2 linked regions of the Homo sapiens genome follow. The gene in region 1 interacts genetically with each later gene. Each region holds a gene or a part of one and is shown on either strand. Other genes may lie near its edges.

Evidence for each region. A genetic interaction does not mean that the proteins touch.
Region 2: changes in RAD54L (region 1) and NDUFA9 together harm fitness more than expected from each alone (negative genetic interaction), as found in Homo sapiens cells (one study listed by BioGRID).

Annotation. Positions count from the first base shown.
Region 1 is NC_000001.11:46,263,504-46,273,580, forward strand, and holds part of RAD54L (DNA repair and recombination protein RAD54-like), read left to right. Parts: intron 1-3,955; coding exon 3,956-4,106; intron 4,107-7,155; coding exon 7,156-7,282; intron 7,283-8,962; coding exon 8,963-9,037; intron 9,038-9,168; coding exon 9,169-9,299; intron 9,300-9,851; coding exon 9,852-9,962; intron 9,963-10,077. UniProt on the Homo sapiens protein: Plays an essential role in homologous recombination (HR) which is a major pathway for repairing DNA double-strand breaks (DSBs), single-stranded DNA (ssDNA) gaps, and stalled or collapsed replication forks.
Region 2 is NC_000012.12:4,686,495-4,695,935, forward strand, and holds the end of NDUFA9 (NADH dehydrogenase [ubiquinone] 1 alpha subcomplex subunit 9, mitochondrial precursor), read left to right. Parts: intron 1-443; coding exon 444-614; 3' UTR 615-7,823; downstream 7,824-9,441. UniProt on the Homo sapiens protein: Accessory subunit of the mitochondrial membrane respiratory chain NADH dehydrogenase (Complex I), that is believed not to be involved in catalysis. Required for proper complex I assembly.

The sequences.
Region 1 (10,077 bases):
GAGAGGGGACAGAGGGAAAAAGCTTGCTTTTGGGTACCATGCTTTCTAGTTGTGAGCTATTTTCTGGTCAGTCATTGGCGGGTCTTCAAACTCCCAACTTCCTGGTAGGAGTAGGGAACTTACCAGGTTGAGGTGAGGTATGCATGTTACTGCCCTGTGGTTCAAGGCCCTGACATCTGCTTCATCACTGTGGAGGGGGACTATGCCAGGAGCCAGGTCCAAAGCATTGTGGGAGAGGAAGGCAGGCTGTAGCTGTTGAGCCTTTGAGGATTAGGGAGCATCTAAATTTTTTTCTACTTTTTGTTTTTTTTTGAGACAAGGGTCTTGTTCTGTTGTCCAGATGGAGTGCAGTGACGTGATCTTGGCTCACCGCAACCTCTGCCTCCCATATTTAAGTAATTCTCCTGCCTCAGCCACCCGAGTAGCTGATATTACAGGCGTGCACCACCACTCTGGCTAATTTTTGTATTTTTAGTAGAGATGGGGTTTCACCATGTTGGCCAGGCTAGTCTCGAACTCCTGGCCCCAAATAATCTGCGGCCTTGGCCTCCCAAAGTGCTGGGATTACAGGTTTGAGCCACCGTGCCCAGCCTTTTTCTACTCCTTAGTGTTTTTTTCTTCCCCACTCTGTCCTGTTTTATGAGCTGACTCTGTGCAGGGCACAAGGGATGAGGCTGCCTCTTATCACACTGCAGCCCCTTGGCTGTTTACCTTTCTACTTGTTTACCTTTTATTTTGTCAACTGTCAGAGATCTGAGGAACCAAAAGTCCTGAAAAGATGGTCACCTTACTCCAGGGAAGGAGAGGGTTTGTCCTGTTCAGACCCTGGAAAGGGAAGGTGCCATTTCAGGCTTTCATGTTCTCAGCTCCCACAGCATCTTCCTCCCAGTAACGCTTTTCTCTGGAACACAGTTTTTCATAATAACTTCTATGTACAAAATCTTTGATCCTCAATCAAAAGACACGGGATCAGCTCTGGCTTTGCCACTTACAAGCGTGACTTTCCACAGATGAGACTGCTCTGAGATTGTTTCTTCATCTGTAGAGTGGATGGCACATGGGCTACTTGAAAGGGATATGATACAGATCAAGAGAGGATATATGGGAGCACTTTGTACAAGTGTATAAATAGCAGAGGGATTGACGTCATCGTCATCTCAATCTTAAAGATTAGGAGACAAACTCAGGGAAGTGCGTAGTGACTTGCCCAGGTTCTCCTAGCGAGTACATAGTAAGCTGGAATGTGAATGCAGGTGTGAGATTCCAAGTCGTGGCTCTTTTTCCTATCCCTCTCTGCCTTGGATGCTTGGTGCAGGAAGAAGCTTGCCTTGGGTATGGAAGGGTTGTCCCTGTGCTCCTCATTGAGACCCATGTGGATCCTTAGTGACTGGTCCAATAGGGAGCTGGGGTTGGCTTTCTCTTTTGCAGAGACAGGATAGTGTGGCAGCCCATTTCATTCGCTGGGTTATTTATTAAGTGCCTTTTATGTGTCAAGCCCTGGAGATCTCACAATGCTGTCCCTCAGGGAGCTTCAGTTTAGAAGATCTAATTGTTGGTGCCCATTTCCCCTGGACCTGTTGGGTAATTTCCTCTGACTTTCAAGTCTCATTTCCCTCTTCAGTTCAGAAGTCTAAGGCTTTTTTTAGGGCTAGTACTTGGAGCCTCTAATAATTTTTTTTTTCTTAATTAAATTTCTAGGCCAAATGCGGTGGCTTACACCTGTAATCCCAGGACTTTGAAAGGCTGAGATGGGCGGATCACTTGAGGTCAGGATTTCAAGACTAGCCTGGCCAACATGGTGAAACCCTGTTTCTACTAAAAATACAAAAGTTAGCCCGGCATAGTAACACATGCCTGTAATACCAGCAACTCAGGAAGCTGAGGCACAAGAATTGCTTGAACTGGGGAGGCAGGCACATGCCACCACACCCAGCTAATTTTTGTATTTTTAGTAGAGACAGGGTTTCACCATGTTGGCCAGGCTGGACGCAAACTCCTGACCTCAGGTGATCCACTTGCCTTAACCTCCCAAAGTGCTAGGATTACAGGCATGAGCCACCATGCCCCGTTGGTTTATTTAATCTTTAATAGCAACATTGGTCATTATTTCATTCTTTCATTCAACTAATATTCACTGAGCTTTGTCCTATACACTGAAATTATACAGGCGAATCTGACATAGTCTCTGCCTTAAGAAATCCTAGTCTCTGCCTAGTTGAGAAGATAAAGTACAGTAGAGTGTGATTAGTACTCTAGTATATATATTATGGATGAGGGCAGAGTGGTACAGTGTCCAGACTCAGAGTCATACAGACCTGAGTTCAAATCCCAGCTCTGCTACTTTCTACCGGCATGATTTTGGATAACTGTTTACCTCTCTGAATCTTAGTTTCTTCATCTCTAAAATGGATAATACAATTTCCATTCGTGTGGATTACAGAACAGAATACAGGTAAAGTGTTTAGTTAGTACCATGCCTACCACATTAAACGGGTTCACTAAATAGTAGCAGCCATTACGTATATAGTGCCACAGGAGCACAGAGTTGAGAGAGACAAGCAGCCTGGAGTCACTGAGGAAGGCTTTGCATAGGAGGTGACATCTGAGGAACTTGCCTGTGGAAAAGAGCTCTAGGCAGAGGGGTGGCATGGGCAAAGAGACATAAGGAAAGCCAGCATTAGGAGTGACAAGGTCAGGATTCCTGGACCGTGACAAGCTTGGAGAGTGTCAGAGAAGTTCACTGGGGCCTCATTGAGAAGGGCTTTGAATGCTAAGCTAGTGAGCTTAAAGAGCTTGGACTTGATGCTATAGATGGAAGAGTCAGTGAAGGGTCTGCATTTAATTGCGTTGTCAAAGCCTGACCCAAGGGAGCAAGACTGATTGCTGATTCTTGGTTGAGTGGTTGAGTTTTGTGTGCCTTCCCCAGTATGGGGCTGGATGTAGAAAAGGTATGGGCCTAATCTTGCCCATGTAGTTCTTGGAGAAAGAGGGAAGGTTGTCCTTTATGATTTTCTTGAAAAAGGCTTAAAAGAAGTAGTAGAGGTGTGGAGAGAATGGGAGGACAGGACAGGGAGAATAGAGATTGGGGAAGAGATGTGAAGGGAAGCAGAGGGAAGCTCTTTAGCTCTACTAGCTGTGAGGATTCTGGTGGGACATGGAGCCTGGTCCAAGTCCCTTTAACACTGATGGCCCAGACAAGGCCTGGAGTCTAATACAGAAGGCGTCTGGCTCAGAAGGTTCTGAGTTGGGTAGGCTGATGTGGAGGGGAGGACTCCCTGAAAGCATGGGTTTGTCATATGTCCACATGATCTCTGAAGAGTATAGGTGGGCTGCCAAGGCTCTGGAGGTGGGGCAGGGAAAGGGATGGAAAGGAACAGAGGGAATCTTTGCTTTATGGGTATAGCACTGGTCTGGAAACAGGAAGTCTGTCTTTTGAGCCTAATATTCTCCATAGTTAAGTGGGTGAACCCTCTCTCATGCTGCCCCCTGCCTAGTTCCCAAGGCCCTAGAACCTGTAATGTTTTTGTTTTTTGTTGAGACAGTTTCTCACTATGTCACTATAGTGGTGGCATATGCCTGTAGTCCCAGCTACTCAGGAGACTGAGGTGGGAGGATTGCAGTGCACTCACGGCTCACTGAAGCCTCGACCTCCTGGACTCAAGCGATCTTCCCATCTCAGCCTCCCAAGTAGCTGGGGCTATGGGTGTAAGCTACTATGCCCAGCTAATTTTTGTATGTTTTGTAGAGATGGGGTTTCACCACACTGGCCAGGCTGGTCTGGAACTCCTGGGCTCAAGTGATCCACCTGTCTCGGCCTCCCAAAGTGCTGGGATTACAGGCATGAGCCACGGCGCCCGGCCTGGAATGTTTTTGACTCCTCTTTTCCTGTCTACATGAGACTTTGCTACCGTATAGGGAATGCCACATTGCGCTCTGAATAAGGATTCTCTTGCAGGGACACAGGCTCAAGAACTCTGAGAATCAGACTTACCAAGCCCTGGACAGCTTGAACACCAGCCGGCGGGTGCTCATCTCCGGAACTCCCATCCAGAATGATCTGCTTGAGTATTTCAGCTTGGTACATTTTGTTAATTCCGGCATCCTAGGTAAGAATCTAGCCTTGTTTGCCACATCAGAGAGGAGCCCTGCCTTGTCTTTGGGAGTATAACTCCAGCTGAGGAGAGAAAGAAGAGAATGCTAGTTATATGTGGGTCACTAGGCATTCTTGTAGGAAGGCTTCTCTTGTCAGGGAGTAGCAAAGCCATTGGGAGGCCTTGGATCTGCTGAGCAACTCAGCAAAGCCCATGTTGGCCATTTTTCCATTGCAGAGGTGGCAGGGGCTATACAGGGAATGGTGTCATGATGAGCTGAGGGTGGAATTATTATTTTTGTTCCTCAGATCCTAGCTCCCTTAGAAGAGTTTTGGCCTCAGAGCAAGCTCTGTCTTGGGCAGACGTGTGTGTTTTAAAAATCATTTTAACCATTTTTAAATGTAACAATTCAGTGGTATTAAGTACATTCACTTTGTGCAACCATCACCATCATCCATCTTCAGATTTTTTTTTTCTATTTGCTAAACTTAAAATCTACCCAATAACTCCTCTACCCTCCCCTCCCAGTGCTTTGAGAGGCTGGGGTGGGAAGATCACTTGAGGCCAGTTCAAGACCAGCCTGGGCAACATAGTGAGACCTTGTCTCTACAAAATAAGAAAATTAGCTGGGTGTGGTGGTGTGTGCTGGTGGTCCTAGCTATTCAGGAGGCTGTGATCATGCCACTGCACTCTAGCCTGGGCAACAGAGCAAGGCCCTGTCTCTAAAATAGTAATAATAATCAAAACTCCTCATTCCTCCCTCCCCTAATCCCTGGCAACCACACATATATTTGTGAAAGGGTGTGTTAGTGTCACCCCAACTTGCCAGTGCTCAAGAGTAGGCAGAGAACCTGCTGAGTGGCAAGATTATGACCAAGTGAACACATTTGTGTAACCACCATCAGATGAATTACTAACACTCTCTCAGCAGCCCCTTTTCTAATCACTATCCTCTCCTTTTGTCCCGGCAGCAAACTCCTTCCTGACACTATAGGTTGGTTTTGCCTATTTTTGAATTTATGTTAATGAAATCATATAGTATGTATTCCTTTACATCTGGTTTCTTTTGTTCAACATGTTTATAAAGTTTATCCACATTATGTGTAGCAGTAGTTTGTTCATTTTCATAATTGCATACTATTGCATGTTATGAGTACACTACAATTTATTCTACTGGTTTGGTTTTGTTTGTTGAGACAGAGTCTCTGTTGCCCAGGCTGGAGTACAGCGTTGCAGTCATAGCTCACTGTACCCTCAACTTCCTGGGCTCAAGCAATCCTCCCACTTTGGCCTCCTGAGTAGCTGGGACTACAGGCATATGCCACCACTATTGGCTAACTTTTAAATTTTTTATAGAGATGGGGTCTCATATGTTGCTCAGGCTGGTCTTGAATTCCTGGGTTCAAATGATTCTCTTGTATCAGCCTCCCAAACTGCTGGAATTATGGGCATGAGCCCCTATGCCTGGCTTCCATCTTTTTCTGTTTGGATATCTGGTTCACCCTACATCATATATTGAAAAAACCGTTCTTTCCCCCATTGCTTTGCAGTGCTACCTTCTTCATAAATCAAATGTTCATATATGTGTTGCTCTATTTATGGACTCTATTCTGTTCCTCTGGTCCGTTTGTCTCCTTGTGTCAGTACTTCTCTGCTTTATTTACTGTGGCCTAATAAGTCTTGATATCCATTAGTGTGAATATTCCAACTATAGTCTTTTTTTTTTTTTTTTGACACAGGGTCTCGCTTTGTCACCCAGGCTGGAATGCAGTGGTGAGATCATGGCTCACTGCAGCCTTAACTTCCGGGCTCTAGTGATCCTCCTGCCTCAGCCTCCTGAGTAGCTGGGACAACAGGCACACACCATCATGCCTGGCTAATTTTTGTATTTTGGGTAGAGGTGGGGTTTTGCCATGTTGCCCAGGCTGGTCTTGAACTCTTGAGCTCAAGCAATCTGCTCAGCCTCCAACTATATTCTTACTCCTTAACATTGTCCTAGATATTCTTGGCCCTTTGCATTCCCATGTAAATTTTAGAATCAACTTGTCAATTTATACACCTACTGCCTGCCATACCCACCAAAAAACTCTAACTGGATTTTAATTGGGCTGTATTGAAACAGATAAATTCTGAAAGATCTTTCATTTTTATAATACGGAACCTTCCAATATATTAATATGATCTGTCTCTCAACTTGTTTAGGTCATCTTTAATTTCTCTCAATGTGGCCAGGTGTGGTGGCTCACAACTGTAATCCCAGCACTTTGGGAGACCAAGGCGGGAGGGTACCTTGAGCCCAGGAGTTCAAGACCAGCCTGGGCAACATGGCAAAATCCCATCTCTACAAAAAAAATACAAAAGTTAGCTGAGTGTGGTGGCATGTGCCTGTAGTCCCAGCTACTTGGGAGGTTGAGGCTGTGGTGAGCCATGATTGCCCCATTGCATTCCAGCCTGGGCGACAGGGAGAGAACCTGTCTCAAAAAAAAAAAAATTGGCCGGGCACGGTGGCTCATGCCTGTAATCCCAGCACTTTGGGAGGCTGAGGCGGGCAGATCGCGAGATCAGGAGTTCGAGACCAGCGTGGCCAACATGGTGAAACCCCGTCTCTACTAGAAATACAAAAATTACCTGGGCACGGAGAAGGGGTGCCTGTAATCCCAACTACTCGGGAGGCTGAGGCAGGAGAATTGCCTGAACCTGGGAGGCAGAGGTTGCAGTGAGCCGAGATTGCACTCCAGCCTGGGTGACAGAGCAAGACTCCATTGCAGGAAAAAAAAAAAATCCACTCTGGCCATGTTTGTCTTTTTAGTGGACTATTCAATCCATTTACATTTACTCTAAGTAATTATATATTTGGATTTTAACCTATCATCTCACTTTTGGCCTTTCAAGTCTTCACTGCTTTGATACCTCTCTGATCTGTTAAACAGAAATTGGCCTATATTTTGTTTAGCCTTGTTCTTGGTAGGAAGGCTGGTTTGTGAGAAGGTAGTCTGCCATCACTAGCTGTGGGAAAATCATTCCTTTTCCACATTCTTCTGTTTTCCTTCTCTCCTGTGTTTAGGGACTGCCCATGAATTCAAGAAGCATTTTGAATTGCCAATTTTGAAGGGTCGAGACGCTGCTGCTAGTGAGGCAGACAGGCAGCTAGGAGAGGAGCGGCTGCGGGAGCTCACCAGCATTGTGAATAGGTAATGACCTTAAGCGAAGTCATTAGAATTGCCTCCCAAACCATCCATGGCCAATCCTTTGGGGGCTTTGCCTCTCTAGAGCCCTCAAAGGCTGGGATTCTAGGAAGGGAGTGGGTTCTGTGTCCTAACTATGGCCACTGAATAAACAAGGGAGTCTTGGAGGTGAAGTGCCTGCTTTCTTTCTGGCTTGGGCTCTGTGGTCTGGTTTTGGTCTGTTTATCAGCCTGCTGAGGAAGCTTTTCTCTGATGCTGCTGGACTTCTTGAGCAAAGTATACCTTGGAGCATTACTAGTATTTCAGAAGCTTCCTGTCAGTTGGTCTCAGACCCGAAACATTAGGCTTCTCTTCCCAGGCCCCATAGTCATTCTGTGACAGGTAGGAGAAGATCTGAAAGGTGGTTGTGGCTCCCAGGCTAAGGGGACTGACTTTTTCATGGGAGTTACATAACCCAGAGGGTAGGCACATTCTGGACTCCTTTGTCCAGAGGTGGTATGCACACTTGATAGGTTACATTCTAAAGAGTCCTCCTGCCCTTCCCAACAACTGCCTGGCTACCTGGCTACCTCTCCCTACCAATTTTAGATGGCAGGACGGGCATGGTGGCTCACGCCTATAATCCCACCACTTTGGGAAGCTGAGGCGAGTGGATCACTTGAGGTAAGGAGTTCGAGACCAGCCTGGCCAACATGGGGAAACTCCCATCTCTACTAAATATACAGAAATTAGCTGGGTGTGGTTGGGGTGCACCTGTAGTCCCGGTTACTCTGGAGGGAGAGGCTGGAGAATCGCTTGAACTCGAGAGGCAGAGGTTGGAGTGAGCTGAGCTGCGCCACTGCACCCCAGCCTGGGTGACAGAGCAAGACTCCGTCTCAAAAAAAAAAAATTAGATGGCAGGAAGAAGAATTGGTGTTTTCTTAAGATCTGCTTCTTAGGTGCCTGATACCTATCCTTCATAGTCTTCCCAGGAGGTCTATGCTTAATTTCATTTAGCCTGGGGCCATGTAGCAGCGGGCATTTGGACAAATGCAAGCAGAAACTCCCCTAAGGACTTAGTAATTTACAACTTGCTTTTCCTGTTAGAGCTCCTGTATCAATGGGAAGCCTCAGTCTTCTCTTGAAGACTAGGCAACCTATTGAAGGGGAAGAGAAAGTGCTGCCTGTCTAAGCTAGCATGTTTGGAAGGTCTCTGTTCCCACAATTGAGACCCTGATACAGATGTGTTTGACATAGGTCTGATGACTTTTTTTTTTTTTTTTTTTTTTTTTTTTTTTTTTGAGATGGAGTCTTGCTCTTGTTGCCCAAGCTGGAATGCAATGGGGCGATCTCGGCTCACTGCAACCTCCACCTCCTGGGTTCAAGTGATTCTCCTGCCTCAGCTTCCCGAGTAGCTGGGTTTACAGGTGCCTGCCACCACACTTGGCTAATTTTCGTATTTTTAGTAGAGATGGGGTTTCTCCATTTTGGCCAGGCTGGTCTTGAACTCCTGACCACAGGTGATCCGCCCGCCTCAGCTTCCCAAAGTGCTGGGATTACTGGCGTGAGCCACTGCGCCTGGCCGAGTCTCTGACATTTAATACTGTAAAAGAGGGCTAGTCTTGGTCCTTTGGGTGGTAGCTTTTATTCCAGTAGTTAGCATGGCAATTTTACCAGCCTCTTGCCTTTTTATCCTGTTTTCTCTAGATGCCTGATACGGAGGACTTCTGATATCCTTTCTAAATATCTGCCTGTGAAGATTGAGCAGGTCGTTTGTTGTAGGTACTGAACTCAACTGAAAGATGTGGAGTGGGTCAAAGCCTAGCTCCTGAAGCATGGCTGGGCTCTCAAGGTGTTCTCAGAGGGCAGGAGGGTGGTCTAGCTTTTTCCACTGACCCAGCTGCCTTTTTTAGGCTGACACCCCTTCAGACTGAGTTATACAAGAGGTTTCTGAGACAAGCCAAACCGGCAGAAGAATTGCTTGAGGGCAAGATGAGTGTGTCTTCCCTTTCTTCCATCACCTCGCTAAAGAAGCTTTGTAATCGTGAGTTGGGCTTGTGTCCTGGTGTCCTCTGTGAGAGTGAGCAAGGGAGGGTAGGTTCCTGTAGTGGCCTGGCAACCCTCACTAAAACTCGTCCAGAGTCATCCTCATAGAGGCCACATGTGATTCCAACCCTACCCAAGGCATGAACCCTGCATTGTGGAGTCTGTTTACCAGACCCTTTGCTTTGGAAAATTGAACTCATCTTCTGTCCAGCCCATGCTTGATGACCTGGGATGTGTCGACTGTTTGTGAGTGCTTGCATGTACACACGCTCATATACAATGTTGGGCAGGAGGAAAAATAACAAAGAAACCTTGCCTGCTCTGTTATAGCTCCCTTCTTGTTGGGAGAACACATTAGTGAGTGAGATTGTCCATCCATCGTCCCAGATGGCACCGACTATATCCTGTTGGAATTTGGTAGGATGAAGATCAAGCAAGTCTGATGTTGAGGAAGGCCTTTTGGGCTAGGCTTCTAGAGGGAGTTCTAGTGAACACTGAAGTGGAAACTTCAGAAAGCAAAGTATCTGGGTTTTGTTTTGTTTTCTCCCAGATCCAGCTCTAATCTATGATAAGTGTGTGGAAGAGGAGGATGGCTTTGTGGGTGCCTTGGACCTCTTCCCTCCTGGTTACAGCTCTAAGGCCCTGGAGCCCCAGCTGTCAGGTGACCCTTTTCCTACCAGTATTTGGGCTTCTCTAGGAGGAGGGTGGGAGATTTTTTTTTGTGCTAGGGCTGTCCTGTTTCAAGGCAGGATATCAAGAGTAAGAAGCCTGGGCCA
Region 2 (9,441 bases), on another chromosome or scaffold:
CAGAACGCCCGTGCTCAGAAAACAGGGGCGTGAGAGGACTGAGGAATGGACCAGCTCTGCTTAAGCCCTGATTTTATTCCTAAACCCTCCTGTTCAGCCTCCCCTGGCAAGTGTGGTGACTTGTGCTTCCCTGCCCTAGATTTATTTCTGTTGAAATCTGTATATAGAATGGCTCATGTAGTGCCAACATCCTGTGCTCGCGGCTGCCACTGGGGACCTCGATCTGATACTTGGTGATCTCGCCCTCTTTTGTCTTAAGCCCTCTTTGTGTGTTCTGCTTTTATAGTGATTTGCATGAATCGAAAATTGCCACATATTCTTTGAAAGCAATTAAGTCTCAATAATAGGACTCATGCCAGCTTGAATGTTTAAGTGCCTGCTAGGATAGCACTTTGTTCTCAGCCAGTTTTCAGCATTGTCTGTGGTCCTTTGTTTATCCAAAGATGCACATCACAGACATGAAATTGCCTCACCTGCCTGGCTTAGAAGACCTTGGTATTCAGGCAACACCACTGGAACTCAAGGCCATTGAGGTGCTGCGGCGTCATCGCACTTACCGCTGGCTGTCTGCTGAAATTGAGGATGTGAAGCCGGCCAAGACCGTCAACATTTAGTGCCTCCTGAGCAGCTCTTGGTTTTGGCGTCTTTTGGGTCGGCCCATGTGGTTTGAGCACCCAGCCAGGCGGTCTCTTTAGAGGATCCTGTACACAGTTCCACTATTAAAACATTTCAGGTTGAATTCTGCAGTATTTTCTTCCTTGATTTACAAAATGAGAAATGTAGTCACTTAGAACTTGAGCATGATTTTTGTTAAACATATTTAATAATGATATATATACTATTTATTCTCTGAAATGCCAGAGAGTTTGAATTTTCCTATGACAAACCACTTCTAGCATACGTTCTAGAAGACAAGGACCCTTTTTAATGTCAAAGTATTGTAAAGACCCCAAGTGATATGTGATTGTTTTTTAATTTCCATTAAATGAGAGAGCATACAGTATCCCCTAACCTGAATGTGTTTACACTGAAGGTGTTTTTAAAATTTATTTTAATAATGTCCATATGCCTTTTAAAAATAGTAGTACATATATAGAAAAACATTGTCCATAGATTCTCAAACCCCTTGCAGTAATTCCACAGTCTTCTTGGATCTGAGCTATCTGAGGCCAGCCCGATGCCCTTAGTACCACATCTGGATTATTTCAGACACATAGGTGGAGATAGATTCTCTTCACATGCAAAGGAGATGCTTCAGCTTCTATGCCAGCAGTGCCAGCACTTAGGAATTATGACCTTCTAATGAAGTTCTTAAAATTGCAGCCAAGACCCAGATGAACATTTGGTTTAGTGTTGGCAAATCCCACCAGTACAGTGTGATTTAAAACTCCCACAATTTGTGGTGAAGCCAACATACCACCATCCTAGGTGACCCAGGGTTGGTCATTGTGTTTCACTGGACTTCAGCCTCCTGATCTATATTTGGGACAGGGATGTCAGTAAAAACGCTGTTTGATGAGGGAATGCCCGTCTCCTTACAGAGAGAAAGGTATATCAGTGTTGAAGGTAAGTTCTCCACCTGCCCTTTCTGCCTGCATCAGAATCTTTTTATCCCAAAACGGTCAACAGTGAGCTACTCCAAGTGTGGTCCATAGATCACCAGCATTGGGATCATCTTGGGGCTTGTTAGAAATGCAGAACCCGGGCTGGGCACAGTGGCTCACACCTGTAATCCCAACGCTTTTGAGTTGCTGTGGTGGGACGGTCGCTTGAGGCCAGGAGTTTGAGACCAGCCTAGGCAATATGGCAAGACCTTGTCTCTACAGAAAAATTTCAAAAAGTTAGTAGGGCATGGTGGCACGCACCTGTAGTCTCAGTTATTCGGGAGGCTAAGGTATGATGATTGCTTGAGCCTGGGAGTTCAAGGTTACAGTGAGCTATGATAGTGCCACTGCACTTCAGCTTGGACTGAAGATCCTGTCTCAGAAAAAAAAAAAAAAAAAGGCAGAATCCTAGGTTTTGTCCTGTCCCAGGCGTGTTGAATCAGAATCTGCATTTTAGCAAGGTCTCCAGGAGATTTGTATGCACATTACAGTATGAGAAGCACTGCCATACAGAAGAGCTGTATCAGAGTTCAGTGTGATCCCTGTTATTAATCCAGGTTGCTGACCCCACCCCAGACCTACTGAATCAGAGTCTCAGGAAGGAGGGCCCAGGAATTTTAGTTTTATTAAACATTCTAGTTTATTCTCCTGTACACTAGTATGTCAGAATCAGCGTACTAGGGAAAGGAACACAAACCCAACTTCACGTTTTTTCTTCAGATGCTGTCTGTTATTTTGGATGACACCCCTCCTGGCCATAAGCCAGCCATTAGGCACAGAGATGGGTGGATTTAATTTGAAAAGGAACTATAATTCTATAATGCACAGTGTCCTCTCTTAGAATATCTACACTTTCTTTCCTTTTTTTGATTCTTAAAAAAAAACTTATTGATACATAATAGATGTAAATATTGTCAGGGTATATGTGGTAATTTGATATATTCATATAATCAATCAGTGTAATTGGGATATCCATCACCTTAAACATTTACCTTTATGCTAGTAACATTCAAATTACTCTCTTCTAGCTATTTTGAAATGTACAGTAGATTAGTATTAACTCTAGTTACCCTACTGATCTATTGAACACCAGGTCTTACTTCTTCTGTCTTAACTGTAATTATCTTCATTTTCTAGCAATGCTATTTCTCATCTCTAACTTGTATCATCTCAGGATGCTGTATATTTCTTTTATTTTTTATTTTTTATTTTTTTATTTTTATTGATCATTCTTGGGTGTTTCTCGCAGAGGGGGATTTGGCAGGGTCATAGGACAATAGTGGAGGGAAGGTCAGCAGATAAACAAGTGAACAAAGGTCTCTGGTTTTCCTAGGCAGAGGACCCTGCGGCCTTCCGCAGTGTTTGTGTCCCTGGGTACTTGAGATTAGGGAGTGGTGATGACTCTTAACGAGCATGCTGCCTTCAAGCATCTGTTTAACAAAGTACATCTTGCACCGCCCTTAATCCATTTAACCCTGAGTGGACACAGCACATGTTTCAGAGAGCACAGGGTTGGGGGTAAGATCATAGATCAACAGCATCCCAAGGCAGAAGAATTTTTCTTAGTACAGAACAAAGTGAAGTCTCCCATGTCTACTTCTTTCTACACAGACACAGCAACAATGTGATTTCTCTATCTTTTCCCCACATTTCCCCCTTTTCTATTCCGCAAAACCACCATCGTCATCATGGCCCGTTCTCAATGAGCTGTTGGGTACACCTCCCAGACGTGGTGGTGGCCGGGCAGAGGGGCTCCTCACTTCCCAGTAGGGGCGGCCGGGCAGAAGCGCCCCCCACCTCCCGGACTGGTCGGCTGGCTGGGCGGAGGCGCCCCCCACACAAACACTGAAGCCGTAGCATTGACTAAGGAAACAATTTTACCATCCTAAGCTAGTGGATGTCACCCTCTCAGTGTATGGAGGTTGCATATGACAAGTAACTGGGAGCTGGGCATAAGATCTAGGACACTCATATCCAGGGTGATTCTCTTCATAAGGAGGCATGGGCTGAGTCTCCATTTATAGGGGCTGTCCCCATAGAGACTTCAAGCCACACCTTTCTAGGGATTCAGGTTGCACATTACCTGATTCTCACAGTTGATTTGAGCCTGCAAGACTGTAAACCCATCCCATTATCATGTTTTCTTCCTCATTTACCTACATTTATCATTAAACCTTTGTGATTCAGCAAATCTGTTTACCTTCTGATTCTACTTTAAATTCCGTTCATGTTCTTCCTTGGCCCTCCTGTGTATTTCCCACAGCTTTGCTAGGCCTTAAGATCATCTCACATTCTTCATCCTAATGACAAAAATAAGTTCTATGGGCTGGGCGCGGTGGCTCTTGCCTGTAATCCCAGCACTTTGGGAGGCTGATGGGGGTGGATCATGAGGTTAGGAGTTCAAGACCAGCCTGGCCAATATGGTGAAACCCCGTCTCTACTAAAAAATACAAAAAATCAGCCAGGCATGGTGGGGCCCACCTGTATATAGTCCCAGCCCAGGAGGGAGACTGAGGCAGGAGAATCACTGAAACCTGGGAGGCAGAGGTTGCAGTGAGCTGAGATCACACCACTGCACTCCAGCCTGGGAGACAGAGGGAGACTCTGTCTAAAATAAATAATAATAATAATAATAATAAAGGTACATGATGGAAGCATATATGGGAATATATGCAAAGATCTCTGAGAAGATAAAGAAAGGTCTCTGGAAGGATTAGCAAAAACTCCATAGAAAACGGATTTTTAAAGCTGCATCTTGATGTTAACCTGCTGAAATGTGTGTGTTGGACCGGGGTGAGGAGGAAGCAGTCATTCATGCTGTGGAAGAGAACAGCATGAGCAATTGCAGTGGGGCATGAATGAGTGGGTGGTTATGAGTGGGAGGCAGAGTCCGTGAGTTGGGAGGGGCACAAGCGAGTTTAACCTTTACCTTGGAGGTGATGCAGAGCAGTTGAGTTCCATACAGATTTGGCTTCGAATATGAGTTCCACTACTTCTTAGTTGTGAGATTGGACAAGTCACTTGACCTCTCTTTGTCAGCCTCAGTTTTCTTGTTTATAAAATGGGGGTGATAGTAATAACTACATGATGGGATAGTGATGAGGAATTAAATGAGATCATGCATGTAAAATGCTGAGCCCTGCACATAATAAGAACTAAGTAAATGTGAGCCATTATCATTTAAGTAGGGAATATCATGCCCATCTGAGTCCATACATTTGTTTCCTGACTTAATAAAATAGCTGCCGTTCCTGAGAAGGAGGGATTCCTATTTCCCAAATGCTGGAAACAGGGACTTATAGAAGGTAAATTGCCCCATTAGTAAGTAGCTGAATTGGTTTTCCAACCTGGATCTTTCTGGCTACAAAACTGATGCCTTGTTCCAGAAAGGATTTAAGGATGCTCAGGAGGAAGACATTCCCAGAGTTACACTCTAGAAGGTCTTGGAGTGAATGGGAGGTATAGTGGAATGGAGGGCGTATTTGAAGAAACCCTTCCTGTGAAGGAAAATCCAAGAGAATGAAGTAAGGAGAGACTTAAACTTGAAAAGATTCTTGTGAGAGAAGGAAAGGGGCTATTTACAATAGAGAAGAGACTAGAAGAAAGTCTGAACTCACCTCCCTGGAAGCAGAGGGTGGTGGGGTTTTTGAGGGCTGTGTGAGAGTGTAGAAGTACTGAGAACAAGAAGCCATGTGGATCCTGTGAGGGCCAGGATGGGGGGGGGGGTCATGGGTCATCTGTGTTTGCTGATTGGCTTTATCCAAAGGAAGAGTAAACATCTCATCCTTATGACAGGAAGTAGTCCTGCAGCTTGGAGCAAGGTGCCCACCAAAGTTAGGCACATCCCACAGCAAGTGGGAGAAAGGAGTGCTATCTCCTTTTGAGGTTACATTTCAGAGAATGGTTCCCCTGGGTCCTTGAGAAAGACAGTCCTGGGTTGTAAAACTGGCAAGAGGCTGAGGGAAGATGTATGTCTCAAAGGGGAACTCAAATAATTTATAATTTTAAGTTTTCTGATGCTCTAAGGGAAGTCAGGTGCCTAATATTGGTGATGTGGTTTGGATGTCCCCACCCAAATCTCATGTTGCAATGTAATCTCCAGTGTTGGAGTTGGGGCCTAGTGGGAGGCGATTAGATCATGGAGTAGATTTATCATGAATGATTTAGTACCATTCTCTTGGTACAATCCTCAAGATAGTGAGTTCTTACAAGATCTGGTCATTTAAAAGTGTGAGGCAACTCTCCTCACCCCTTGTTCCTACTCCTACCATGTGAGGTGCTTGCTCCCTTTTCACCTACTGCCATGACTGGAAGCTTCCTGAAGCCTCCCCAGAAGCAGATGCCTATGTGACGCTTCCTGTACAGCCTGCAGAACCATGAGCCAATTAAACCTCTTTTCTTTATACATTACCTAGACTCAGATATTTCTTTATAGCAATACAAGAATGGCCTAATCGTGTTAGGAAGAAGCCTGTCTGAAGTGCAGTCAGGCTGAGGGGAGCATGAAGGCCATCTTGATGGGGGAAATCTTTTAGTACCCTAATGCGAGCAGATGATGATGTTGTTGGCAGAGAGGGAGGGTATAACTTGTGGTGCCTAGCCCTAGAGGGAATGGAAGGGCCAGAATCCAGAGCATAGGTGGGATTGTGTGGGCTGACAAGTAATAGTATATGATAGCATAGTATATGATAGCAGTAGTATACGATAGCATGTGTGTGAGTCCATTTTGTATTGCCATAAAGGAGTACCTGAAGCTGGGTAATTAATAAAGAAAAGGGGTTTATTTGGCTCACTGTTCTGTAGGCTGTACAAGCATGGCACTAACATCTGCTTGGCATGAGCCACCACACCCGGCCAGAATTTTATTTTTAGTGACTAGGCTTTCCTTTAAAACCTCTGTACTAGGCCGGGTGCAGTGGCTCGCGCCTGTAATCCCAGCACTTTGGGAGGCTGAGGTGGGAGGATCACTTGAGCCCAGGAGTTTGAGACCAGCCTGGGCAACAGAGTGAAACCCCATCTCTTTAAAAAAATAAAGCACTTGAAGCAGAACTTTTTATCTGTCATAATCACTGCTATGTCCACAGCACCTAAAACAGTCCCAGACATCTGTTGAATAAATGAATGAATGAGGTGGGAAGTCTTTCTTTACACTTAGATGAAAACTCCATCGGACCCCAAATTGTTCTGGTCTTGTTCAGGTAATAATTTTAATTCTATAATAAAATCTCAAGTTATAATAGGCTCAATTTGATAATTAGGATGCCCAGTGTTGTGTAATAATTAAAGCGTTAAATTTCCTCTCTGCCCCACAGCTGGGATCCAAGAAGACCCTGTGGCTGGCTACTCTTCTGTATTTTCATTTATCTCCACCCCCAGTTTACCAGCAGTGGTTATCCTCTCTCCAAGACTGGGCCAGGGGTGAGAAGGGCAGTCTTACCAGGCAAGGGTCTTTGCTGACAGATGTCTGGGCCTTCTTGACAGCAGGTGTTTAAAGCTGAATCTGGTTCTACTTTCAGGAGAGTGATGGTTTGAGATGGTAACTGAAGTTGTAGAAGTAGATGTTGAGGATGAAGTATCATATTAATAAAACATTGCCCATTAACACCTTAGCACAAATTAAAACTAGCTATACCTCACTGATAAGGACCTGAATGGCTAAATAATGATGAATGATTTATGGATGTAGCGGGGAACTGGGTGGAAGCAGTAGTAAGAAATTTGAATTAAGGAATCGTAAGGGAATCGAGATTATCTAGTTTCCCCTCGACATTTTATAACTGAATAAACAATAAAAAACAAGAGAAGTGACAGCTTTATAGCATCTGATTGGGGAAAAACACATCTTTTCTGGGGCTAGACAGTCCATAAATAGGACTTGGAAATGGAAGTGTAGGGGGAGATCCCATTGTACTTCAGTGGAAAACTATGCATTGTCTGGAATCTAGACTCTGGACAAAGACCCTTCCTTCCTGGCTGTTTGATTTTGATTCTATGGGAGCTATCTTGCAACTCTGTAAGCTGTAGGTAACTGATAGCAGAGCAAAATAATTCTTGTCTATAGACGTGTACATTGTGTCTTAGCGTAGATTCACCCGACCTCCTTCCCCAGTTTTGCTTCTATTAGCACATTTATTTCAGTAATTTTGATCTTTGGATTCTCCTTGGACATTCCTCACTGAAAAATGAAATAAAATTTTTGGCATGTGCTCTTCTTTTGCATCTGTTTGAGAGCTGCAATTTTTACCTTCGTTTCAAAATTATCCTTTAACCAAAGGGACGGTGGTGAACTAGGCAGGCGGAGCTGCCCACTCCAGGTGGTTGTTACCAGGGGAGGGCGCTGGCCAGTGTTGCCAGATCTCCACTTTTTCAAGGGAAGCTGAAAAATCTCATTTTTGTCAATATGTGAAACTTCTTTATGTTTCAATATTGGCAACTAATTGAAAAAAAAAAAAAAAGTGTGCCTAAGAAAACTCACCTGTGGTGGGATCTGTTCCATTGGCCACCTTGTTGGGTCAGGGAAACAGGACATCTGGATCTAAGAAGTGCTGTATGCTGACCTGAAGTGGACCAAGTACTCCTCGTGTATTTTCTCATTCTCACCACAGCCTTGTGAGGTAGATATTGTCATGCCATTTTACAGGACAGCCACACATATGCCAAGTGCCAGAGAGTAAATGGCAACAGCAGGACCAGACCCAGATTTACTGTCCAGTGCAGTTTTGCTGAGAGCGGTGAGAAGTGGAGGAGGCATCTAAAGGGCTTGCTTTACAATGTTGCCTGGAGCCAGTCCACATCTGAGCCATGGGAGGTCACAAGAAATGTGAGTTGGGAGATCCTTTAACGGAGTGGGATGGGTGGATTTACAAAGAAGCTTCCATAACCCGCCACGTTCTCCAAGTAACCTTGGGTGTGAGCTCCATTTGGCTTTTTTTTTTTCAAAGCAGGCTTTTTAAAGGCAAAATGGGGAACAAGGAGTGAGCTGATACAAAGTTGTTTGTCAGGAATTCTCATTGGTTTATAGAAATAACATTGGTTAGTGATTGGCTATGCATTGTTGAATTACAGGGTATGAGCTACTTGTGTTAGTCAGTCTAGAGTCCATACAGCAGGCAGCTTCAAGAGGTGATTACTTAGCTCAAGGTGGGTGAGTGGGACATGACTGCTGTCTCATTTCAAGGGCCCTCTGAGCCAGGTAATTTAGAGGAGGCTCACATTCCTCAGATAAAAGTTTCTTTTCTTTCTCATCCAAATGACTTTTATCAGTGATTACTAGGTTTTGAAGCCTAATACTTAGATTCTTTCTCTAGGAGAGTCTGAATCTAATGGTTGTAAACCAAAATAAAAACAAAACCATGAGGCCGGGCATGGTGGCTCATGCCTGTAATCCCAGCACTTTGGGAGGCCAAGGTGGGCAGATCACCTGAGGTCAGGAGTTTGAGACCAGCCTGACCCACACGGAGAAACCCCATCTCTACTAAAAGTACAAAATTAGCCGGGCTTGGTGGCGCATGCCTATAATCCCAGCTACTTGGGAAGGCTGAGGCAGGAGAATCACTTGAACCTGGGAGGTGGAGGTTGGGGTGAGCAGAGATTGCGCCATTGCACTCCAGCCTGGGCAACAAGATCAAAACTCTGTCTCAAAAAAAAAAAAAAAAAAAACCACCACGAATAAATTATTAGGAAAGCTGGTGGAATCAGAGGGTGGACAAAAAACAGAGCTTCCACACTCTTGAGCTTCCTTAATATGTTTCATGACATGAAGCATTCCTTCCTTTATCTAAAAAATTGTTGACCTCCTGCCAAATATATCCTTACAGGTAAGGAGAAGTTGGTAGAT